3 separate regions of the Homo sapiens genome follow, and regions 1 and 3 are each linked to region 2. The links come from fine-mapping of genetic effects on gene expression. A gene starts in region 2. Each other region holds a variant in brackets. All regions are shown on one strand. Distances are from middle to middle.

The links. PIP is the estimated chance that this variant, and not a neighbour inherited with it, causes the effect.
Region 1: its variant is fine-mapped to the expression of FRAT2 in whole blood (INTERVAL, PIP above 0.99).
Region 3: its variant is fine-mapped to the expression of FRAT2 in visceral fat (GTEx, PIP 0.98).

Annotation. Positions count from the first base shown.
Region 1 is chr10:97,359,024-97,367,174 of GRCh38, reverse strand. It overlaps RRP12 (ribosomal RNA processing 12 homolog), which reads left to right. Exons shown (of 34, transcript NM_015179.4): 26 at 43-134; 27 at 266-433; 28 at 554-729; 29 at 942-1,067; 30 at 3,272-3,321; 31 at 6,557-6,629. Among named protein-coding and RNA genes, the nearest start is that of FRAT2, 28 kb to the right of the region's middle. The variant A/G (reference allele first, on the strand shown) is at 4,754.
Region 2 is chr10:97,330,428-97,338,600 of GRCh38, reverse strand. It overlaps FRAT2 (FRAT regulator of Wnt signaling pathway 2), which reads left to right and starts at 3,872. Exons shown (of 1, transcript NM_012083.3): 1 at 3,872-6,104. The coding sequence starts at 4,029. The coding sequence ends at 4,730. LOC105378448 (a long non-coding RNA gene) reads right to left here and starts at 3,755. Exons shown (of 2, transcript NR_188201.1): 1 at 3,630-3,755. RefSeq lists enhancers at 1,198-1,716, 4,254-5,161 and silencers at 3,304-3,653, 3,784-3,933, 4,024-4,173, 4,514-4,643, 4,654-4,703.
Region 3 is chr10:97,566,557-97,574,729 of GRCh38, reverse strand. UBTD1 (ubiquitin domain containing 1) reads right to left here. Exons shown (of 3, transcript NM_024954.5): 2 at 6,589-6,816; 3 at 3,524-4,592. The coding sequence ends at 4,207. It overlaps ANKRD2 (ankyrin repeat domain 2), which reads right to left and starts at 1,951. Exons shown (of 9, transcript NM_001346793.2): 1 at 1,855-1,951. The coding sequence starts at 1,941. RefSeq lists a silencer at 7,870-7,959. The variant A/G (reference allele first, on the strand shown) is at 5,056.

The DNA of each region.
Region 1 (8,151 bases), 29 kb before region 2:
GGAAGGCTCGCCTCCCTGAAAGCCTGGTGCTCTGTCCGGCAGATGGAAGCCATTGGGAAGCTTTCAGATGACATGCGGCGGCACTTCCGCATGAAGCTTCGGAACCTGTTCACCAAGTTCATCCGCAAGTTTGGGTCTGTGCACTGAGCAGGGGCGGGGGTAGGGCAAGCGAGGGGCCGAGGATTTCCAGTCCTACCAGGGACACTACATCTGGGTCGTGCTGTCTGGCCAGTGCCTCTCACCAGCCCTTCCTTGCCACCTCCAGATTTGAGCTGGTGAAAAGGCTGTTGCCCGAGGAGTACCACAGAGTCCTGGTCAACATCCGGAAAGCTGAGGCCCGGGCCAAGAGGCACCGAGCCCTGAGCCAGGCTGCCGTGGAGGAGGAAGAAGAGGAGGAGGAGGAGGAGGAGCCCGCCCAGGGCAAAGGTGACAGGTGAGACCATGTTAGGGCCATGGGACCCGGTGTCCCCCCAACCCAAGGGCCTGCCCAGGCAATACCCGCTGACCCCCGCCTCTCCTGGGAGCACTCTGACTGGGGGCTTTTTGTCCTTAGCATTGAGGAGATTTTAGCTGACTCAGAGGACGAGGAGGACAATGAGGAGGAGGAAAGAAGCCGAGGCAAGGAGCAGCGGAAGCTGGCACGACAGAGGAGCCGGGCATGGCTGAAAGAGGGCGGTGGGGACGAGCCCCTCAACTTCCTGGATCCCAAGGTGGCCCAACGAGTCCTGGGTAAGCACAGGGCTGGCCAGTGCACTCAGAAAACAGACTTGCCATGGTGCCAGGTTCTCAGGTGGTGGGTAGGGGGTGGCATCCATGGCAGGCCCATGGACAGGGCTGAGAGGCGCCCGTTTGGGATCCCTGAGCCGGGCTTGTTGGTCATGATGAGGGTGAGTAGCATGGGACTGGCCTTCCACCTCCTCATGCCAAACTCTACACCCCAGCCACGCAGCCAGGGCCAGGCCGGGGCAGGAAGAAGGACCACGGCTTCAAGGTGAGCGCCGATGGCCGGCTGATCATAAGGGAGGAGGCAGACGGCAACAAGATGGAGGAAGAGGAAGGTGCCAAAGGTGGGCCCAACGCGCTTGTCCATTCATTCACCGTGTTCACTTATTCCTTCGGTGATCACTTGCTGAGGAAGCGTGGCTAAAAACAGACCAGAGAAACTCTTCTCTCGGCAGCTTCCTCAAACTTTTTGAGTTTCTCAAACTTTTTTTGAGAAACATTAAGAAATCTTTTTATGTTGTAACCGAGCCATTTATACAATACATATTTAACTTAAAGGAAACTATCGGAAATGGTACTTCCCCTTACTGTGTGTGATACGCTGTTAGTCTCTTCTGTTTTTCTCCTCCTCCTCCCCCTCCTCTTCCTTTCTCCTTTTCTTCCTTCCTCTTTTTTTTTTTTTTTTAATGCAAACTTGGCTAAGGCCCTGAAGATGATTTAGAGGCAGAAAGAGCCAGAGGCTGAAACCCTCCCAACTTCCCAATCCCAATGTCTCACATTGCCCGGGAGTCCCTCCGGTGTGGCATCTCGGAGCTCTCTTTAGTCTTTCCTGGCCCCTCTCCACATATCCAGCCATTAGCTAAGAAACACTTAGGTCTTCGCCAGGCGTGGTGGCTCACGCCTGTAATCCTAGCACTTTGGGAGGCCAAGGCGCGCAGATCAGGAGGTCAGGAGATCAAGACCATTCTGGCTAACACGGTTAAAACCCATCTCTACTGAAAACACAAAAAATTAGCTGGGCGTGGTCGCGGGCGCCTGTAGTCCCAGCTACTCGGGAGGCTGAGGCAGGAGAATGGCGTGGACCCAGGAGGCAGAGCTTGCAGTGAGCCAAGATTGTGCCACTGCTCTCCAGCCTGGGTGACAGAGCGAAACTCTGTCTCAAAAAAAAAAAAAAAAAAACACCTAGGTCTTCAAGAACACACCTGTCATCCCTTTGTTTGGTTCCCAGTGCTGCGAGCTCTGGGCCCTTGTCTCACTGCACCTCCTAACTGGAGCCTCACTGCTCCACATGCACCCAACTCACCAGCCACACGACTGCAGCCGCTCGGTCAGCCTCTCCTTAGCTCCGTTTCCTTGCTTCAGAGTGGATATCATACAATCCTAATACCCACTTTTCCGGGTTGGAATGAAGATGAATCGGTGTAATGGGGACAGCGTATGTACTTGGTGTACATGTGCCTGTTATATTTCCGTGTCTAGTGTCTTCTCTGCTCCTCTCTCGCCCCTGTATACTTTCCCATCTCCTGTCCCCCTTGGTGCCCAGGCATTCCTGAGGCTGTCAGGACCCCTCCCCTCTCTCTCTGCCTTTCCAAACCCCCCTGCTCTTCAGGATTCAGCTCAAAGCTCCTTTTGTAGCCCTTCCTGGGCACCTCAGCCTTTAGGCCTGATTCCCCCAGAACTCCTGCCAAGCCCAGAGGAAACCCAGTCTTCAGCCCTTGGTCATGTGCTTTCTTTGGAGATAGAGTCTCGCTCTGTCACTCAGGCTGGAGTGCAGTGGCTCGATCTCGACTCACTGCAGTCTCCATGTCCTGAGTTTATGTGATTCTCCTGCCTCAGTCTCCCAAGTATCGGGGACTACAGGCGTGCGCCACCATGCCCAGCTAATTTTTGTATTTTTAGTAGTGATGGGGTTTTGCCATGTTGCAGACTGGTCTTGAACTCCTGACCTCAGGTGATCCTCCCTCCTCGGCCTCCCAGAGTGCTGGGATTACAGGTGTGAGCCACCACACATGGCCGGTCACGTGCTCTCTATCGTCTTTTGGTTGTTGATTGACTTTGCCTGAGTTTCTCTTCCCTCCAATTGGTCAGTTTCATACTTTATATTCCCACATGGAGCCCAGCACATACTGCATGGGGCAGAGATTTCAAACAGGAGAATGAAGCCTTCCTGGCACAGTGGGGGTGTGTATGGGGCTGCAGGAGCGCCTGACTCCCCCGGAAACCTGGGGCTTTCTTCAAATCTCAAACAGATGAAGGGTGGGTGAGTGGGAAAAGAAAAGTTTCAAACGAAGCCATATTCACCTCAAAAGTAGGATCACCGCTTCTTTGAGGGGCCGTTATCCCTAGGGCCTAGGGTGGGAAGGAGAAAGGGGCAGTGCTCAGGGGTCTCATCTCTTCTAGCAGAAGGATGATATTGGTCTGAGGAAGGCAATTTTCTGGGGCCGGAGTTGGTGGCCCCGCAGCCTGGTGAGCCAGGAGGGGGCAGAAGGAAAGGGTAGGTTTTGAGGAGCTCCCACAGCGCTCATGGGCCTCTCTTTTTTGGCTCCAGGCGAAGATGAAGAGATGGCTGACCCAATGGAAGATGTGATCATCAGGAATGTGAGTAGTTCCTGCAGATGGGGGGCTAGGGCTTCAGACCTAAGCCTGGGCTCCACAGCTTCTCACCCCCACCACACGTAGACATTGGAACTGCCCTGTTTCTGGAATGCTCGGTGCATCCTCACAGGTGTGCATAGCAGGCGGTCCAGAAGGTTGTGGGTGCCAGGCAGGACAGGGTGATGGTTGTCTAGTTAAAGGAGAAAGAAGGCAGAGACCCTTGTCTCTCTAGCGAGGGCATGTGCTATGCAGGGGCAAGGGCAGCAGCTTCCCTGTGTGCTCCTGCATGGGGTGGGGGCATCCACCGTAGGGGAGCATGGCTGTGTGCCCAGCACTGTGCTGAGGGCCCCACATAGCCTCACGAAGATAGGGACTCCGTTGTCCCAGTGACCAGAGGAGCGTACAGAGGTAAGTAGCCTGCCCAGGGTCACAGGACTCAGTCTGTGCAAACCAGGAATTTGAACCCTGGTTTTCCAGTCTCCTAAGCCCAGGAATTCAACCTCTTTGCCACCATTACCCCTGTTGACCTGGCAGTGCTGCCTGCCAGGATGGAAACAGCCTCTCAGCTGCCCCACCTGAACCAACAAGGGTGAAGTGGGCCCAACCCATCACCCAACACCTGTCAGTCTCAAGCTCAGTGGAACATTTCCATTCTGGAGCAGTTTCTTCCCTCTCTGCCCTTCCAGACTATGCCCCAGCCCATCCAGCCTTCCTGGGCACCACCCGTAGGTGACAGAGCCTACATCAGGGTATAGTGATATCGGTGGGGAAGCGGCAGACTCTGGGGTCCCATCTTGGCTTCAGCCTAACCTTTTAAAGCCTCAATTCCTGATCTGTAAAGTGGGGTTATAAATAGACCACCTGGTGGAGTCATTGGGACAGTTTGGTAAGATTGGGCGTGTAAAGTGCATTAGCATAGTGCCTGAAGTGTTACAGACTTCCCCCACATCCCCGTTTTCATTGGCGTCATGTTTGTCAATGTCTGCCCATATGCCTTGCCAAGTGTCCATCTGCCCAGTGTGGCCCGAGGAGGAGTTTGTTATTAGAGCATTGTGACAGCGCAGAATTCTGTTTGAAGAGCTGAGTACATATCCAGAGTCTTGGGTCAGAGAGTAGCTGAGGACCTGAGCAGCCTCTGATGCGGGAAGCCCCTCTGGGATGCCCTTGAGGAAAAGCAGTGGGGCTTCTGCTGAAAACCCTCCTGCCCCTCTCTGCGCCCAGGCAACCACTCCTGTGGGACAGCTTCACCTACTGGGAGTCCTTCCTCTGCTTGGTCTGACATGGGCCCCTCCGAGAGGCCACCCTCAGGCCAGTCTAGTCTCCCTCTCCAGGTGATGGCAGTCGTCTGCCAAACGTGTGTCTGGGCCCAGACTGCCTGGGCTCAAGTCTTTGTTTCTGTGTACAGTGCTTGCCACTTAGTGATGCAAAGTAAGCC[A/G]TTGTGACTTGATTATTCACTTTTCCTGGAAATCTTTTTCCATTCAAAGCCTCCTGGGTTCCTTAAGCACATCTTCACATGTGGCTTTGCAGATCCTCGGCAGCCTACTCCTCTCCCTGGCCGGGGAGAACCGACCACGGCTTTCTAAGGATGTCCCCCACTGCCCCGGGCAGAGCGGGACTGAGCAGATGCCTTGTCTCCAGGCACTGAGAGGGCCCCAGGGCAGTTGCATTCTGTGGCTGGCTCCTGCCACTGAGACCCCCAGAGGGTTTCTTGCATGGCACTTAGTTCTAACTCTTTTTTTTTTTTTTTTTTTGAGATGAAGTCTCACTTTTTCGCCAGGCTGGAGTGTAGTGGCGCAATCTCGGCTCACTGCAACCTCCCCCTCCCAGGTTCAAGTGATTCTCCTGCCTCAGCCTCCTGAGTAGCTGGGATTACAGGTGCATGCTACCACGCCCAGCTAATTTTTGTATTTTTAGTGGAGATGGGGTTTCATCATGTTGGTCAGGCTGGTCTCGAACTCCTGACCTCGTGATCCACCCACCTCAGCCTCCCAAAGTGCCAGGATTACAGGCGTGAGCCACCGGGCCCGGCCAAGTTCTAACTCCTCGGCCAACCATTGTGGAAGCATGAAGTGCTGGGGTTCAAGTAGCTGCCTCCATTCAGGGCCAGCAGGCTGGGCTGTTGGCCAAGCACCAGCTGAACCAAGAGCCAGCTCAGCCATCATCCCCTACATTGCAGTCGGAGTCAGCTTCCTCCCGGTTCCTGTTTCTCCACTAGGAGCCCACTCAGCTGGGCTTCGGCCAGTGGACCTGGAGTCCCCCGTCTCCCAGGCACACCCTGTGTGTGCTGCAGCCTGTTCGCTCTGCCCAGGCCGATCCCTTTACCTGGCATACCTTTCCCCTGGTTGGCCTCTGGATCCCCTGGGTAGCTGGAGCCCTGGGAATCTGCAGTTTCTAGAGGTTTCTGGGGCACAGTGGCACAGACCACAGTGCAGGGACCAGCCTTGCCAGCTGGGGCCACCTCTGTTTGCCTGCCCTCCCTGCACAGCACGCCTCTGCCTGGCCTGGTTGTTGGTTCTAGGCTCACATCTGATGGGCTGGGGCCGCTGTCGGGCTCTCCCTCCTTCCCTTGGACTGCCTAACACAGTGCCAGGCGCACAGTAGGTGCTCTGTCACTTCCTGTTGAATATAATTGACGAGCTGACGTGTCTTACTGTCCATGATCATACCTGCTGGGATGGTAGCATTGTTGAGGATCAGTGATGACTGGCTTGAGCAGGGGTCTCCCACCCGCCTGAGAGCCCGTGGAGCACAGGAACTAGATCTTGTGCCCTGTGTCCCCAGGGCCTGGCACTTAGTAGGGGATCAGTAAGTGAGTGATTAATAGGGAGAGTGGGGTGGGGTTTGTGTGAAGCAAAGAACTGGTAAAGCTATTCTCTCTGAAGAGGCCAGGGACCTCATTTTCCCCATTAGGAAGGCTGGGTAAGCTGATGTCAGAAGCCCTCTGGGCAATTGCAGGCCTGGGTGGGGCCCAGAGTGGAAAGGAAGAGCAGGAACGGCCGCCACCAGCCCGGCAGTCAGGACATGGCCAGAGCTTCTCTTCTGCACTGCCTGGCTTTGTGATCTTGGACAGTTCCTTGCCCTCTCTGGGCCTTAGTTTCCCCATCTGTAAGTGAGAGGTGGGGTGCTTAGCAGAGGGCCTCTCCTGCTTGATGCAGGGTACTCTGCTGTTACTGTTGGCATTCCCGAGGGTGGGCACATCCCCTGGTTCACTCACTACCCACCTATTCTCTCTCTATAGAAAAAGCACCAGAAGCTCAAGCACCAGAAAGAGGCTGAGGAGGAGGAGCTGGAGATACCCCCTCAGTACCAAGGTGAGGCTTCCACTCCTCTCTCCTGGGACACATGGATCCCTGTCACCTGCATTAGGGAGGGGAGTCACAGGAAGGGGTGGCAGGGCCATGAGGGTGCACAGCCTGGTTGCACTCACTTGGCACCAACAGAGGTTGGCTGATATGACACTCAAGATGGGCCTGGAGTCTAAGGGGCCCTGGGGGTGTGAGAGAGCCTATGGGTTAGGAGATCTGTGCATGGAACCACCAGCCTTCTGAGGAGCCCTGAGCCACAGCTCCTTCCCACCCGCCCAGGCCTCCCAAGAGGCTTGAGTCTGTCCCTTCTGCGAGCTGCTTGCCTCTCTTGGTCACCCTAAGAGCACCAACCGAGTCAGGCTGGGTTTAGAGAAGCCACTTGGCCGGTGCCAGGGCTGGGAACTGGGAAGGTTGGTATTGGGTCTGGCCAGAGGGTTCCCCTCTATTTCTATCTCTGGGCCCACCAGCTGTTGCCCTCCTAGAGCAGCTGCTAGAAGTGCCAAGGTGGCTTCACCTCTGCTTCCTTCCTCCCAGGGTAGCCTTGCAGGACCCCTGCCCCCAAGCCCTTGCAGCAGAGCCCTTGCTTTGCATCTGGAGGTCCAGGGGCTCCTGTGGGAAGCCTCTGATTCCAGTAGCTGGTGTGTCCTCAGCCCTAGAGCATCATAACGCAGCTGCACAACCTCATGGCTCTTCCGCCTGTGGCACCCATGAGCCAGGGCCAGCTCACCTACTGTGCCCTGGGATGGAGTGATGCTGAGGCAGGAGTACCTGCCAATTGATGAGGCAGAGACCTGGGGTCAGGGCTGCTTGCCCAACCTCTGCTTAGCTGTTTGACCTTGGCCTGGTTACACTGTCTGTCTCTGAGCTTCTAGTTTCTCATCTGCAAAAACATGAGGAATGGGGGTGGTTCGTGTTGGTCGTCTCAGAGAGTCCTCCTGAGCTGGCATGGTAGGATTCCATCCACAACTTGTCGTTGAATGTTGAAGTCCAGGCTGGAGAAGACAGCTGACCTTGGGCAAGGATCTTGATCTCTCTAAGCCACAGTGTTCACATCTGTTACAATGGGTTAAATAGCTACCTGCTATCTCAGTGTTTGTGTGAAACCCAAATGAGATAAGAAGGGAAAGCCTAAAATGGCTTCTCTTACAGATGAGGTTAAGAGGCTTGCCTGAGGTTGGAGCTGTAAGTGGCAGAGCTGGGAGTTGAACCTGGCTGGCTGGCTGGCTGAATTCTGTCTGACTTTGGAGAATATGGGTTATTTTTTGTTAGTGTGTTAGCGGAGAATATATGTGTTCCCAGAGGTCTCTGGTAAGCTGTAAGGCTTCTGGGTCAGTCTGAGGAGCCCAGTGATCTAACTGTCAAATCACCAGACAGTCCCTCCTCGAGGAAGGTCTTTGTCCTGGTTTGATAGGGGACAGAGCCAAGTTCCTGGCCTTCACTCATCTGCTCCCTTGCAGCTCTCTCAGAGAGGGTGCCCATTGCCTTTCTGGAGGGGGCTGCCCTGGCTTTGCCTGACTCATGGTCCTGT
Region 2 (8,173 bases):
CATATTATTCTCATGTAATATAACCATTTCATAAAGAAGGGACCGTCCCCCATTTTACAGATGAGGAATCAGAGGCACGGAAGGATAAAGTGACCCCATCCAGGTGGTATTCCCAAGCCTAGTGTTCATCCCACTGTACTGTAGCTAATGTCTCTGAGGGCAGGTAACTTGAAACAAGGTCTGTGTGGAAAGCAAACTCCTTGCAGAGAATTTCAACGCAATCTAAGTGAATGCAGAAAACCCTTGAATTCTGTTCTTCCCTGGGCGATTGTGAATGCTGTCCGAGAGTGTGTCTTTCCAGGCAGGGAGCCAGTGTGCTGGGCTCACAAGTTCTCATCGCTTCCCTTTTTGATACCGTCTCATTACTTTTAATTGCATCTGAGTCTTTCTAGCATCTTGTATTTTGCTTCCTAATCCAGGGCATTTCTCTGCCTCCCACTGGTCCAGCACAGCACTTCTCTCTCTCAGAGCTCTCCAGAGAGGTGCCCCCAGAAAATGGAGCTGGTCTTCTGTAATGAATTCATCTCTGTAATGAATAGTATAATATCCAAGTCCCAGCATATTTACATAGCAATCTTCACACAAAAGCAACATTACAAAGGGAAGATTTTTTTTTTTTAAAGAATGCCATCTCAAAGCTCCATTTCCTATAGTACGAAGAACACTATTGGAATTACCCTGACAGGAAAACAAAAACAACTTCCAGGGATGCTGGGTGAGAGACAATAGTTAAACCAGACCCATTAATGTTTAAAATCAATGGAGCATAAAACTGCTTTTCTCTACTTACAGCCAGGCATCATCATACAGAAAGGAGGAAAACATTACCATTTTAACTCTACTGAAATCCGTAAGCCCTCCCCTAATTTTCATTCCTCTCGAAATTCTCCAGTAAGTACCATCGGAATGAAAATGAGAATCAGTCTCTCCGGGGGGAATGGCTTCCAGTCCTCATCAGTAAAGTGTGTGAACAGCCCTCGGGAGATGGAGGTGGGAGGCTGCCCACTGGGAAAGTCTCCATCACTCAAACCTGCAGAACTAGTTGCGGAGACTCACTGTGGGGCATGGGAGCCTCCGGGCTGACTTCAGTAAAGCCCTACACAATCCCAGGTCAGGGTAGACCTGAGGCAGAATTTAAGAAACCTGGCAAGTGCACAGAAGTAATACCCTCAGGGTACGTTTCACCTAGTGGGCTGCATGGGGGGGATCTTCAACATTATTATGTTAAATGCTCCCCAGGGGGGACTCGCTGGAATTGAGCCAGACCTCTGTTAGTAAACCGCTGGACCTAATCCTACATTTGTGTAATGCCTGACAACACCCGTTCCCATTATCTTATTTGATCCTGAAAACAATCCTCAGAGGGAGGCCAGGCAGGGATTATTTCTCCTATTTACAAGTGAAAACACTTGTAAACTGATTTGCCTGGAGTCCCACACCCAGGATGTGGCAGGAATGAGACTTGGATCTAGGTCTTTGTACAACCTGTTCTGGGTTCTTTTGACTTCACACAACAGACTGATCAAAACATTCCCAGCCCCACCCACTCCTCACAACCACCAGCTTAACCAGCAACTGGAAACTCACCAGACAGCTTGTGTTTATGCTACCCTCACACCTCTGTCCTAGTGAAGAAACACACCTTTGGCTGGCAAGCTCTCCAGGAAAAAATTAATTTCATGTCATCTCCTTGAAACAAAGACCAACATTAATCCCAGATGGATTTGAAAAAAAAATCAAGGCATTTGAAAAATCTAAAGAAAATAGAATGGAATATTTAATAACTTTCTGGCAGCAAGGAGACTCCAAATTTAGCATCGTGTTAGAAATTTCAAAGAGATTTTAAAATTTGCCTACATGAAAATTTGGTTTTAGTGGGGGAAAAAATGACTGTACAGAGCCAACAAAAGCCTGGAGACGTATTTGCGGCAAAATATGAAAAGGGTTAACATTTGGTATGTAAAGGAGTCATGCAAATACGTAAGAAACACTCCCTAGGAAAATCTTATTAGGAAATAGACAATTCATAAGAAAGGAAGTACAGTTTGTTAACAAACATTTAGAAAACTGCTCTACCTAACTGAAATCAAAGATATGCAAACTGAAGGGAGAAAATTTCCCTATATAATCCGCAAAAAAAAAAAAATTCAATAATACTCAAATACTAGTGAAGGTGTAATGATGTATGCTCAAGCATTAATGATGGTAGAGTACATTTACCTAACTCTTGGAAAGACACTTCCTGAACATTTATCAGTAAACCTTAAAATACCCAACTACTGTGACTTAAAATTCCACTCCTGGGAATATGCCCTAAGGAAAGAATCATCAATATCTTAAAGTGTCGCGCACAAAAATGTTAGTTACACACTTAACGATGGTGAAATTAGGCAAATGTTAAAAACATAGGCACTTGATGGAAACTTATGTAATCATTAAAATGTTTTCAAAGTGCATGCAATAACACGAAAAACGTTTATGATGTAAGGCAAAGTGGAAAAGTGTGTAACACTGTATGCATGTGTTTGTATACTACACTTTCATAGAACAAAGGCTAAAAAGGAAAAAAATTTAAATGTGAACCATGAGAGATTTTTTCCATCCCTTATATTTTTCTTTTTTTTTTTGAGACGGAGTCTCGCTTTGTTGCCCAGGCTGGAGTGCAGTGGCGTGATCTCGGCTCACTGCAACCTCCGCCTCCAGGGTTCAAACCATTCTCCTGCCTCAGTCTCCCGAGTAGCTGGGATTACAGGCGCCCGCCACCACGCCCGGCTAATTTTTGTATTTTTAGCAGAGATGGGGTTTCACCATGTTGGCCAGACTGGTCTGGAACTCCTGACCTCAGGTGATCCGCCCGCCTCGGCCTCCCAAAGTGTTGGGATCACAGGCATGAGCCACCCACCGCTCCTGGCCAATCCCCTATATTTCTATTTGAACCTTAAAAAAAAAAAAAGACCCTTCTTTAGCCGAGCGGCGGTGAGTCCTATTCTCATGATATGTCCGGGGGCTTGAAGACTGCGGGAGGGAAAGCCTCTGGGACCTCACCTCAGAGCGATTCTGCTCTGCTTCAAAGCGTCCCCTCTTAGGCCGGGCGCGGCGGCTGACGCCAGTAACCCCAACACTTTCGGAGGCCGAGGAGCGAGGACTCCTTGAGCCCAAGAGTTCGAGACCAGCCTGGGCAATATAGTGAGACCCCCCCCCCCCACCACCGTCTCTACAAAAAAAATTTTTTTAATTAGCCAGGCGTGGTGGCCGCGCCTGTGGTCCCAGCTGCTCCGGAGGCTTAAAGTGGGATGATTACTTAAGCCAGAGTTCGAGGCTGCAGTCAGCCGTGTTCGCGCCACTATACTTCAGCCTGGGCGACAGAGACCTTTTCTAAATAATAAATAAGTAAATAAGTAACGTGCCGCCTCTTCACTCCCAATTCCCTCCGCCTTTCCCCGCCCCGCCTCGTCGAAGCCGGACCCGCGGCGGCCCGCCCCTCCCCCACGACCAGGGCCGGGAACTGCGGGTGCGCGGGGCGGGAGTCGGGCGGGCTTAGGCGCGGCCGACACGTGGGGAGGGAGGCCGCGGCCCAGGAGGCGGGCCCGGAGTGGGTGTGGGTGTGTCCGTGCGTGGGAGAAACCAACCTCAGCCTCCTCCGAGGCGCCACGTTTCAGCACGGCTCGTTGGGCCCGGGAGGTCGGAAATCAGTCCCCACGCCCCGGACCCCCTCCTGGAGGGACAACGAACACAGGCGCGGGACGGCTTCGGTCACCGCCCGCGCCGCCCTTTGCCCCCGTGCCTGCTCGCGCGTCACCCCCGCCCCGGTGCGGTGGTAGGGCCCGGCGCGACGTCACCCATTGTTTACAAATCAACCCGAGCCGGCAGGATTCCGGCTCCAGCGGCTGCAGGCGCGTGGCTCGAGTGCCTGGCGGGCTCCGGCTTCCGCGTCCGCCCCTGCTCCGGCTTCGCCCGCAGCTCCGCGCCCGCGGGCAACCAAGCCCCCAGCGAAGCCCGCACAGCTCCGGGTGCCAGGACGGGGGGCCATGCCGTGCCGGAGGGAGGAGGAAGAGGAAGCCGGCGAGGAGGCGGAGGGGGAGGAAGAGGAGGACGACAGCTTCCTCCTGCTGCAGCAGTCGGTGACGCTGGGCAGCTCGGGCGAGGTGGACCGGCTGGTGGCCCAGATCGGCGAGACGCTGCAGCTGGACGCGGCGCAGGACAGCCCGGCCTCGCCGTGCGCGCCCCCGGGGGTGCCGCTGCGGGCCCCGGGGCCCCTGGCTGCGGCGGTGCCGGCGGACAAGGCCCGGCCCCCGGCGGTGCCGCTGCTGCTGCCGCCCGCTTCGGCTGAGACGGTGGGCCCGGCGCCCTCTGGGGCCCTGCGCTGCGCCCTAGGGGACCGCGGCCGCGTGCGCGGACGCGCTGCGCCCTACTGCGTGGCGGAGGTCGCCGCAGGCCCCAGCGCGCTGCCGGGGCCGTGCCGGCGAGGATGGCTCAGGGACGCGGTCACCTCCCGCCGCTTGCAGCAGCGCCGATGGACCCAAGCCGGGGCACGCGCCGGCGACGACGACCCGCATCGGCTCCTCCAGCAGCTCGTGCTCTCGGGAAACCTCATCAAGGAAGCCGTGCGGAGACTCCAACGAGCCGTCGCCGCGGTTGCAGCCACGGGCCCCGCAAGCGCCCCTGGGCCCGGGGGAGGCCGCAGCGGACCTGACCGCATTGCCCTGCAGCCCTCAGGCTCCTTGCTCTGACGCAGGCCTCCTGGAGGAGGAAGTGGAGGCCGCTGCGTAGACCCAACAGCGTCCAGTTCCTACTAACTCTGAGCTGAAGCCGACGTCGCCAGCCTGGGAGCGACCACTTTGGCTGCGGGGAGGCGCGTGGGGAGAGATCTCAACCAGAGAAGTTACCAGCCGCGGCGAGGCCGTCGGAGAAAACTTAAGCGTGGAGAAATGTATGCGCCAGGGTGCTTCCGTGGGGCATGAGAATTTCCCGGGCCATCCAAGCCCAAGGACCTGGGATAAACTGGGAGAACTATGGCAGCTACTTGCATCGACTTGTACCTCACTTAGCCCTTGGGGGCGTCGTGAGCTTGGATTGTTTAAGGAGGGCTCAGGGGTAGGAATCGCGATGGCTTTATAACAATACTTGAAAACTAACGACACGCATACATTTTCTTATTTTCTGGTGGAGGAGCTTAGTAAGTGGTGCTACAATTGCTGTGCAAAGAAATTCCAGAGGGGAGAAGAATGTAAAAGTTTGGTGGTGGGTGGCTTGGCATTGCCCCTTTTTCCCACCGATTCGGTGGCTGGTGAAGGTGGGAGATGTGAACTCCAATTAAGGGACTGGAGAGAGGTGAAGAATTTTGCAGGTGGGAGATTTGGATTTGAATGTGGACTTGTAAATGACTTGACCTTGCCATCTGTGTTCAAGGTCACGGTTTGCTGTGGGGTTCCTGGGAGAGCTTACTCACCCCGGAGTCTTTTCTTTCTCTTGCTCCAAGAAGAGCCCTGTTGGTGCTTTACCACCGCTTGGAGTCTCCCGAGGACACAAACAGGCAGAGAGGGACGTGTAGGGAGAGTTCTTTCCTGTTTTCTGTGCTTTCCTTTTTACAGGACTCCCGGAAGGCCACTCATGGCCATGCCAGGAGCTTTCTCAGAAACAGTCATAAACGATCTCTTGAGTCTCTTTCTTGTCCTCCCAGCTGAGCTTTCTTATTCCACCCTTTCTGGTGTCTATAGGAATGCATGAGAGACCCTGGACGTTTTTCTGCTCTCTTCTGGCCCTCCATGGAGTCATGGGCCTCGGCCTCGGCGGCTCCTCACCCTCACAATTTATTTCCTCCTCCCGTGCCAGCCCTTCTTTTGTGTCTGAAACCGGTTTTAAAATGTGACTCTCCCAGAGAAGAAGCCGCTGGCTGTATGAAACTTGACGGCGCTTTTGTAAGGTGCCACCCCCAAACTTTAAGGTAGCTAAACCAATTTTTAAAAGATTCAATGGCTTGTTCATCCTCCAGATGTAGCTATTGATGTACACTTCGCAACGGAGTGTCTGAAATTGTGGTGGTCCTGATTTATAGGATTTCATAATTAAAATGTCTGCTGAATAAATTTGGCTTTTGTTTTGGAGCACGGTTTGGCATTTTGGTGGAAGGTGGGAGAGGGGCAGAAAAGCATATGGGGATGTCCTTAATAAAGAGGGCACTTGGGCTAAACCGGGGGGGGGGGACCTGGACAAATGGTTTGGGCCAATGCTGATGGGCACAGAATCCTAGTAGAGCCACAGGACTTGAGTGCTTCTAAGTTTTTATTCCACAAGATCAGAAAATTGAGTCCAGGTTTTTAGAAGCTGCAAGATGGGCTTCCACTCCCTTTGTGGAAAGACAATGTATTCTAGAAATGCTTTCTGGGCTGGAGAGCAAAGAGGTGCTGTGGTGGAGGGAGGTGGGTTTTCATCTGGACGTTTTTGTGCAAAATGGGGAGGGCACAGGCGAAGCCAGCCTGCTTTCCCCTTTGAGACTGACCTAGTCTTGAGCTATGGCCTTGGGAGAGAAAAACAGGGTTTTACAGCAGTGTATTTGGTAGTTGTAAAATGGCTTGGTTTGAGCACTCAGGGGTTAGATTTGACCGAAGTAGCCCTCCTCCTCTCCTCATTCTCTCTCTGCCCTGTCTTCCCAGGCATAGAGCCCTTGCTGAATCCCTTCCTAGTTCCTGCCTTGCCCTTTTCTCTTTTTAATTTAATTTTATTATTTTGAGATGGTGTCTTACTCTGTAACCCAGGTTGGAGTGCAGTGGCACGATCTTGGCTCACTGCAGCCTCAACCTCCTGGGCTCAAACAGTCCTCTCACCTCAACCTCCTGAGTAGCTGGGACTACAGGCTCATACCACCATGCCAGGCTAATTTTTTATATTTTTAGTAGAGATGGGTTCTCACTGTGTTGCCCAGGCTGGTCTTGAACTCGAGCTCAAGTGATCTGCCCTCCTCGGCCTCCCAAGGTGCTGGGATTAAAGGCGTGAGCCACCACACCTGGCCCCTGCCTTGCCCCTTCCTTGCCCAGCTCTACTAACCCAGCCCCCGGGGAACCTCTCCTGCTCAGCACACTCCCGAGGCTGGGGCTGCAGAGGAAGGCTGATGCTCAGTTGCCTCAGCCCTTTCTGCTCACCAGCTGTGTCATGGTGGGCAAGTCAAGACTCTGAGTTTTTCCCTTGTGATTTGTAAAACAATAGTACTTAATAGGGGAGTTGGAAGGGTTAAATGAGGACTTGAAGGGGAGACTTCATTGCTCAAAAAGTGATAGCTGCTCATTCTTGGTACTACCACATGGCTTTATGTGCCACGAGGTAGGCACTATTTTTCCATCTTATAGATAAGGACTACAGACAATGGGAAAAGACCTACAAGATCTGAGTGTTTCTCTACTTCCTAGGTAGAGATGGAGCTGATCCCTGTTAGGGCAGGCACCCTGGTTGGCACCTTTTACAAGATTTTTTTTTTTTTGAGATGGAATCTCGCTCTGTCGCCTGGCTAGAGTGCAGTGGTGTGATCTCAGCTCACTGCAGCCTCCCTCTCCTGGGTTCAAGTGATTCTCCTGCCTCAGCCTCCCGAGTAACTGGGACTACAGGAGCATGCCACCACACCCAGCTAATTTTTGTATATTTAGTAGAGACGGGGTTTTACCATGTTGGCCAGGATGGTCTCGATCTGACCTTGTGATCCGCCTACCTTGACCTCCCAAAGTGCTGGAATTACAGGCATGAGCCACGGCACCTGGCATTTTTTTTTTTTTAAGACGTGGTCTTGCTCTGTCCCCAGGCTGGAGTGCAGTGGCATGATCTTGGCTCACTGCAGCCTCCACCTCCTGGGTTCAAGCAATTCTCCTGCCTCAGCCTCCCAAGTAGCTGGGATTACAGGTGCCCGCCACCACTCCCAGCTAACTTTTGTATTTTTAGCAGAGATGAGGTTTCACCGTGTTGCCCTGGCTGGTCTCAAATTGCTAACCTCAAGTGATCCACCTGTCTTGGCCTCCCAAAGTGCTGGGATTACAGGTGTGAGCCACCGTGCCTGGCCCTACTTTGCTTTTTACAATGGTGAAAGGAATTATTGGTGGTAGAGCAGAATCAGAACTCAGGGCACTTAAGTTGGTCCTCTTGCCCCCTGTCTGAGCCTACACACAATGCTCTTCTCACACACCCTTGT
Region 3 (8,173 bases), 240 kb before region 2:
GGGGTCTTGACCCTTCCTTCCTCCTCACCCCTCATTCAGTCACACTCCTTTTTTTGAATGGCATCTACCTCCAACCTGATTTATCTCCTCCCCTCCATTCCTGCTAGGGCCAGCCTTTTCCAACAAGTCCTTCTCAGGGCCATCAGAGCTGCTTTCCTAAAATAGGTCAGATGACACCAATCTCCCTCACTCAATAACATTTAGTGGCTCCTCACTGCCCACAGAATAAATATCTTTTACATGGCCCTCTCTGGCTTGTGTCTTTCCAGCCTTAGCCCCTACTACCAGACTTTATCAAGACAGCCACGCTTTCACTCATGGAAACTTCAGCTCCTGCATTTCCTGAGGCTGGAATACCCTCCACCATCCTGGACTCCACTGAGTCCCCTTGAAGGCCCAGCTCAGGTATCCTCCTGTCCACAGAGGAGTCCCCTTTTTTTTTTTTTTGAGACGGAGTCTCCCTCTGTCACCCAGGCTGAAGTGCAGTGGTGCGATCTCGGCTTACTGCAACCTCCGCCTCCCAGGTTCAAGCAATTCTCCTGCCTCAGCCTCCTGAGTAGCTGGGATTACAGGTGCCTGACACCATTCCTGGCTAATTGTATTTTTAGTAGAGACAGGATTTCACCATGTTGGCCAGGTGAGTCTCGAACTCTTGACTTCAAGTGATCTGCCCACCTCGGATCTCAGATCTCAAAATGCTGGGATTACAGGCTTGAGCCACTGCACCTGGCCCTGTCCACAGAGGAGTCCTTGAAGGCCCTCAGAACAATTCATGAGCCCCTTGTGTTCCTCCACTTCTGATTCACACCTCTATTTAGTCATTTCTTCCCTTTGCCTTGTTTCTTAGTTGACTATGAAACCAACAAATGGGCTAAAATGAATCCTGGGTTGGTAAAAAGAAGGCAGGGTCTGACCCTTATTGGTCCACCCATTTCTACAGCTCTGGGCTCTTGGCAGAGCCAACACTAGATGAAGTATTAGTTTAAATAAAGTGAAGAGTAGGGGCCGGGCATGGTGGCTCATACCTGTAATCCCAGTACTTTGGGAGGCCAAGGTGGGTGGATCATCTGAGGCCAGGAGTTTGAGACCAGCCTGACCAACAGAGTGAAACCCCATCTCTACTAAAAATACAAAAATTAGCCAGGCATGGTGGTGCATGCCTGTAATCCCAGCTACTCGGGAGGCTGAGGCAGGAGAATCGCTTGAACCCAGGAGGCGGAGGTTGCAGTGAGTCAAGATCATGCATTGCACTCCAGCCTGGGCAACAGAGGGAGACCCCGTCTCAAAAAAAAAAATGCAGAATAGGACAAGCCAGCACCCCCTGCCACCGCTCCACTTCCTTATCCCAGAGAAAATGCAATTGCCCAGAACACCACACGCCAAAGGACTCCCCAAGGGTGGCCAGCAGGCTGGCAAAATCCATGCTTCATTTCCCAGCATCCCTTCCTCACTCTCTTCTTCACTGGCCAAATACTGGAGTTTCCCCTGCCCCAGCCTCCCACTCAGTCACTGGGGCATCACAGGGCCACACATTCCTGAAAGTCCCAGGCAGCACCCAGCTGTCTGCTTTGTACAGCCCACTGTCTCTCAAGGCCCAGGAGGGTGAGCAGTCTTAGGAAGCCCAGCCCAGCTCCCCATCTCACTGACTTAATTTTGAAGGCTGAAGCCTCAGTCTTCTGCTGCCAGCAATACCCCCTGCCAGTAATACCCTGGGACAGGAATGAGGCCCAACTGGGCCCCTGGGGACATCTGCCCCCCTCCCCACCACAGGTGTAGCAGACAGGATCTCCCTCCCCTTGACAGCAGAACTGGATCTCCTCAGACCCCCTTGGGCACCTCCACCCCTGCTCGCACCTCATTCTCCTCCTCCTGTGCCAGCCGCTGCTCGATGAGCGCTGTGGCCCTCTGCACCGCCTCGGAGTCCTCCATGGTGCCGTCCATAACCGCCTCTGCAGGCCACAGGGCCTCGGGGGCTTTATAGGCCAGAGCACCCACCCCTGCCCAGCTGGGCGCCTTTGCCATGAGCTCACTGGCCCAATTCTCCACCTGCCTCCCCCACCTGTCACCTTCACCTCGGGCAGCCCCAGGGAGCAGGGGGAGCCAGGGCCAGGGAGCAGAGCCAGTTGCCCCCCCAACTCCTGGCCTATTAGAGCCGGAGGGCACTGTGTCCCAAGAGCAGGGGTGCAGGAAGGAGCCCGTCCAGCCTCTGTCCTGAGCACTTGGGACTGGTTGGGCCTTAGCCAAGGCAACTGAGTTGCAAAAGGGAACTGCTGGCTGCATGCTCCAGCCCAGATGACAGTGCCACCTGCTGGATGCCTGGAAACCCTGCTCAGCCAGCTCCAGGAAGAGGGCCTGAAAACCAAACGGGGGACCCAGGACAGTTCTGTACTCCCAGGCTGTCCTGCAGACAGGCCCTGCTGGCTGTGAGGAGGGTCACACTCTACTTGTCCAGGCCAGGGCCGTGGTAGCAGGAAGGGCAGCTGTCTCCCTCTCTGATCACAGCTCACGCTGGCCTTCGGCTCTCCGGGGTCCCACATGCTTCCCCGTTAAGCATCACTGCATTTGGCTGGGTGACTTTTAGTCATGAACAAACCTTATCCAATCTGTCTCCTCTCTTGGTAAGTGCTCAGGGGACCTCTGCAGGGCTTACAGAGTCTTGCTTCAAGAAAGGGGTCTCCGGAAAGCACTAAGCCCAGCTAGCGAGGAACAGCAGCTACTCTGGATCCTTCTACCCTCCCAGGGTTTCCCTGTCAGGCCCAGACAGTGCCAGACTTCCCTGGCCAGGAGGCTGCCCATGCTCACTAAGAAGGAAAAATACTCCCAAGTGGAGCAAAAGCAGATCTGTACTTGCTCAGTTCCACACCTGGAACTCGCATGCTGGAGCTCTGAGTCACTGTGACCCAGGTTAATCTGCTAGGGAACTGCAGACACCCAGCCCTGTGCTTCTGTAAGGCTCACCTGGCTGGTGGCTGCCCTTAGCTAAACAGCCTTATATAAGATTCCCTTCTCTTCAGATATGCATGCATTCCCCTAGGAAGCATGAGGAACCGGTTCCTTTTCCTTTCTGGTTCCCTTGCTGGGAAGCTGACACAAACCTCTGACACACGATCTAAATCTGTCAGAGATTTTGCTTTAACATCACGATGGCTACAGCGTCTCCAGGGCCGGAAGTTAGCCCCTCTTGCTGCAGGAGCAGACCACCTTCCTGAGGTGCTGTCTTCGCCTTGCAAGCACTTTCACATCTGTCTTCCTGCTTAATCCTCCCAGCAACTGATGGAGGAGGCAGGGCAGGCAGCATGGCTCTGCTTTAAAGAAAAGCAAAGAGTGGCTTTTCCTGAGGACTCATGAGGACACCAGGGGAGCTGGGATCAGGGCCCAGAAGACTGGCAGTTCCAGGCTCACTCTGCTGGAGATTGCATGCCCAGAGCAGCTGGGGAGGCCAGGCATCCACCTGTTCCCATACCAGAACAGCTCCAGGGGCCCCACAGAGCTGCAGGAGAATTCAGTCAAATGCCAGGCAAGCGAGAAGGAGCAAAAGGCTTTATTGATAAATATGCAGATATGTCTGTCCACAGGGACCTGCTGTGGAGGCCATGACCAGGCTGCAGACCTCCCACTGCCTGGGTTACAGCCAGGACATGGCCCTGTGCAGACCCTGCCACGACAGCCCAGCTGTCCACCACCCGCCTCATCTCTGCCAATTGTGCTGGGGGCAGGGAGAGGCAGAGGCCCGCCTCAGGCTTCCCAAGCCCTGGGGCTCACGGGTGGTTCCCTCCCTTCCAAGGGAGTGGCACTGTGCCCAGGGGAGAGCCAGGGGATGGGGGCAGAGGAGGGAGACAGCAGCTGCTTCAGACCCTGAGCAGAAAACCAGAGTGAGCACAGCTGGCAGCACCAGATGACAGATCTGGGCTCCAGGGGCCTCCTGGTTGGCCCTTGTGGCTCGAACCTGCTTCGGGAGACAGGCAGGGTGAGGGCCCTGTTCGCCTTTTCTCTGACAAGGTTGCAAGGCCCGTGTGTGGCTGCCTGCTCCCTGGGTACCGGGAACTGGTGGCGCGTAGTGCCCTGAAAGGCAGGGTCCCTTCACGGCTCACCCACCAGCCACACCGAGGGGAGGGCCCCTGAAGAAAATGACAGCACTGGAAGGCAGCAGCAGGGTGGGGGCCTAGTGCTCCAGGCGGGGCCTCTTCCCAGGGGTCCGTGGGCCCATCAGTCCTGGGGTGGTGGGGGCTGGTTGATGATGACCTGGATGACAAAATCTTTCTGGATCTTGGTCTCCTGGAGCCGTGTGCGGTCTGTGAGCAGCTTCCCGGAGAAGAACCACCGCTGCCACGATGGCTCGATGCCCTCCTGGGCGTGCAGCTGCCTCTTGAGCTGCCCCACTGTGTCGGGCAGGCTGGCGCTGAGCCTCACGTCCTTGCCCGTGGACAGGCGCACCTTCAGCGGGAACTCACGGCGCACGCTGGGTGGAGGCTCGGGGGGCTCCAGGCTCTCCTCCTCCGTGTGCTCCAGCAGCAGGTTCACCGGCGGTGACAGGCAGTAGATGGGCAGCTGGTAGCGATTGCCCAGCTCATCGTAGCATTCACAGAGGGTGCCTGTAGGAGAGGCAGGGCTGTCAGAGTCAGCTTGGGGATCCACTATCATGGATTAAATGTTTGGGTCCCCCCAAATTCATATGGTGAAACTCTAACCCCCAATGTGACTGTATTTGGACATGGGGCCTATACAGAAATAAATAAAGTTAAATGAGGTCATAGCGTGGGGCCCTGACCTTCTGACCCCTTGATGGGAAAAATGGTCCTTTTTTTTTTTTTCTTTTGAGACAAGATCTCCCTATGTTGCCTAGGCTAGTCTCGAACTCCTGGGCTCATGCAATCCTCCCACCTCAGCCTCCCGAGCAGCTGAGACTACAGGTGTGCTCCACTGCCCTGGCTTACAGTTCTTGTAGAGACACTAGAGCACTATCTCACTCTCCACTCGCTCCCCATGTGAGGACACAGCAAGAAGACGGACACCTGCAAGCCAGCAACAGAGTCCTCACCAAAACCTGAACCAGCC[A/G]GCACCATGATGCCGGATTTCCCAGCCTCCAGAACTGTGGAAAATAAATGTCTCTTGATTAAGTCACCCAGCATGTGGTATTTTGTTACAGGAGCCTGAGCAGACTAATACACCTGCCATGGCCACCCCACAGTCAGATCTCCCTAGGACAGCCTGATGACCAGGTGTACAGGGCTGGAGTCAGGAAGACCTGAGCTGGCATCCCAGCTCCACCAGGTACTGGCTTGTTCATCCTGGCATATTATTTTTCACTTCTTCACATGTGCCAGGTGCTGGGGTTACAGGGATGAATGAAATAGCACAGCTCTGCTCTCCATGGGCCTTAGTGTCCTTACTGGCAAAACGTAATGCATGGAGAAATATGTTTATTGTCTCTTGAGCACCTACTAAGTGCTGGGACTGGACTAAATGATGTTATGTGTATCTTACTGAATCCTAATAATCATCTCCCCTTTACAGTCGTAAGGCAGTCAGGCTCTAAATTCGAGAAGCTCCTTGCTAAAGCCAAGACAGTTAGGAAAGGGAAACATTCAGACTGAAACCCAGGTCTGTGGCCAGGCGCAGTGGCTCACGCCTGTAATCCCAGCACTTCGGGAGGCCAAGGCGGGCGGATCACCTGCAGTTGGAAGTTTGAGACCAGCCTGACCAACATGGAGAAACCCTGTCTCTACTAAAAATACAAAATTAGCTGGGCGTGATGGCGCATGCCTGTAATCCCAGCTACTCAGGAGGCTGAGACAGGAGAATCACTTGAACCCAGGCGGCGCAGGTTGCGGTGAGCCGAGATCGCTCCACTGCATTCCAGCCTGGGCAACAAGAGGGAAACTCCGTCTCAAAAAAAAAGAAACTCAAGTCTGTGATTCTAGGGCTCCACTGTCACCCTCTGCTTTACATGGCCCCATAAGACTGCTATGAACTTACGTGAGCTAATGCAGTGGAAGTTTCTAGTTCGGTGTCCAGCACATAACAACCCAATAAAAGGTCAGTGCCTTTGGGAGGCTGAGGCCAGTGGATCACTGGAGCTTAGGAGTTTGAGACCAGCCTGGCCAACATGGTGAAACCCCGTCTCTACTAAAAATACGAAAATTAGCCAGGCATGGTGGCACATGCCTGTAATCCCAGCTACTCAGGAGGCTGAGGCAGGAGAATTGCTTGAACTCAGGAGGTGAAGGATGCAGTGAACCGAGATCCCACCACTGAGCCTCAGCCTAGCCAACAGAGCAAGTAAGACTCCATCTCAAAAAAAAAAATAAAATAAAAAGGTCAGTGCCTTGGATGTTCTGGGGTCCCAAAGTGCATTTGTGACACTGCTTTGCAGGTTTGTTGTCTTTCTGTCATGTCATTAGGCAAGCATAGACTGTGTCTCTTTTTCTTTGTGTACCCACTCCTGGTCCATGCTCAGTAAGGGGTGCTTGAATGAATGAATACGTGAGTAACCACCTGCCCCACCGCTCCACACTCCTCAACACCCTCAAACTGTGCTGGTGACCCCCTAGCTCCAGCGGGGATAAAGCCCTGGCCCTGCCCACTTACCATGAGGCAGGGTGATGCTGGCTCCATCCAGGATGGCCTGGGCCAGCTCGTGGTCGTTGGCTTCAGCAGCATAGGCGGCAGCCTTGAGGGCATCCCAGATCTCCTTGCGGCCCTCGAAGGCAGGCGCTGTGTCCCAGAACTCATCCCGTTTGCTCCGCAGCTGCCCGTCAGTCATGGGGTAGTCGCTCTTCCACTTAAGCCGCTCTTTCTTCAGGGGCTCATTGCGTCCTGGGCAGGACAGAAGGAGAGGCTCAGCATCTCTAAAGCCACTTGAGCTGCAACCTGCCCTCCCCCTCCCCTCCCCTCCCCAGGCCAGACCCTGAAACCCTGCTGCACTGGCTACTAAGTATTCAGGTCTTTGAAGCCCTTCCTAAATAGCAGGGAAGAGTCAGAAAACTTCACATAACCAACCTAGGGACATAAAATAATTGTGTCAGCAAAGCATACGCTACCATTGTTTTTGTTTTTTGTTTTTTGTTTTTGAGATGGAGTTTCACTCTTGTTGCCCAGGCTGGAGTGCAATGGCATGACCTCGGCTCACTGCAACCTCCGCCTCCCGGGTTCAAGCGACTCTCCTGCCTCAGCCTCCCGAGTAGCTGGGATTACAGGCGCCCACCACCACGCCTGATTAATTTTTGTATTTTTAGTAGAGATGGGGTTTCACCATGTTAGTCAGGCTGGTCTCAAACTCCTGACCTCGTGATCCACCCGCCTCAGCCTCCCGAAGTACTGGGATTACAGGCGTGAGCCACCGCACCCTTCCCACATGATGTGGGGCAGGGCGCGGTGGCTCACGCCTGTAATCCCAGCACTTTGGGAGGCAGTAGGATTGCTTGAGCCCGGCAGTTCTAGACCACCCAGGGCAACATGGTAAAACCCTGTTTCTACAAAAAAATTTTAAAAATTAGCCAGGCATGATGGCACGCTCCTCTAGTTCCAGCTACTTGGGAGGCTGAGATGGGAGAATCACTTGAGCCTGGGAGGTTGAGGCTGCAGTGAGCTGTGGTCATGCCACTGCACTCCATCCTGGGCAACACAGCGAAACCATGTCTCAAAAAAAAAATTATTAACAATTTTAACATCTTGTTACTAATGTCCCACTTAAAAAAAGGATTTTTTAAGCAATCATGACCAACAAACTCCCCCAAAAATTCCTGCAGCATCTGACAAAGAAAACAATTCTGTCAAATGTCATTTTTCTTGTTACCCAGCTCCAAGTGACCTCCAAGACAACTCCAAACCACAGCCAAGACTGAGGGCAGAGGTATCTCTCAAAGGCTTTTGGAGGCTCAGTCATCTCAAAACTAAAGGCAGAGTGAGCCACAGGAGTGAGATGTGAAGCACTCTGCTTCCACTATAACTCAGGTCCTACAGTGAGTGGAAGAACTGAGGCTGGGGGCCACCACCAGGCTGCTCCCACTGGCTGGGGCAAAAGGAAGCAAGGAAGAGAATTGCAGGCAGCGATCTCCGCTGAGAAAGAACCCCAGGCAAGCCTTTATTTATATACATGATCCCATTTCATTCTTGCAGTAGCCTTAGGCAGTAGGTATTATTATTGCTATTTCACAGGTGATATGACAGATTT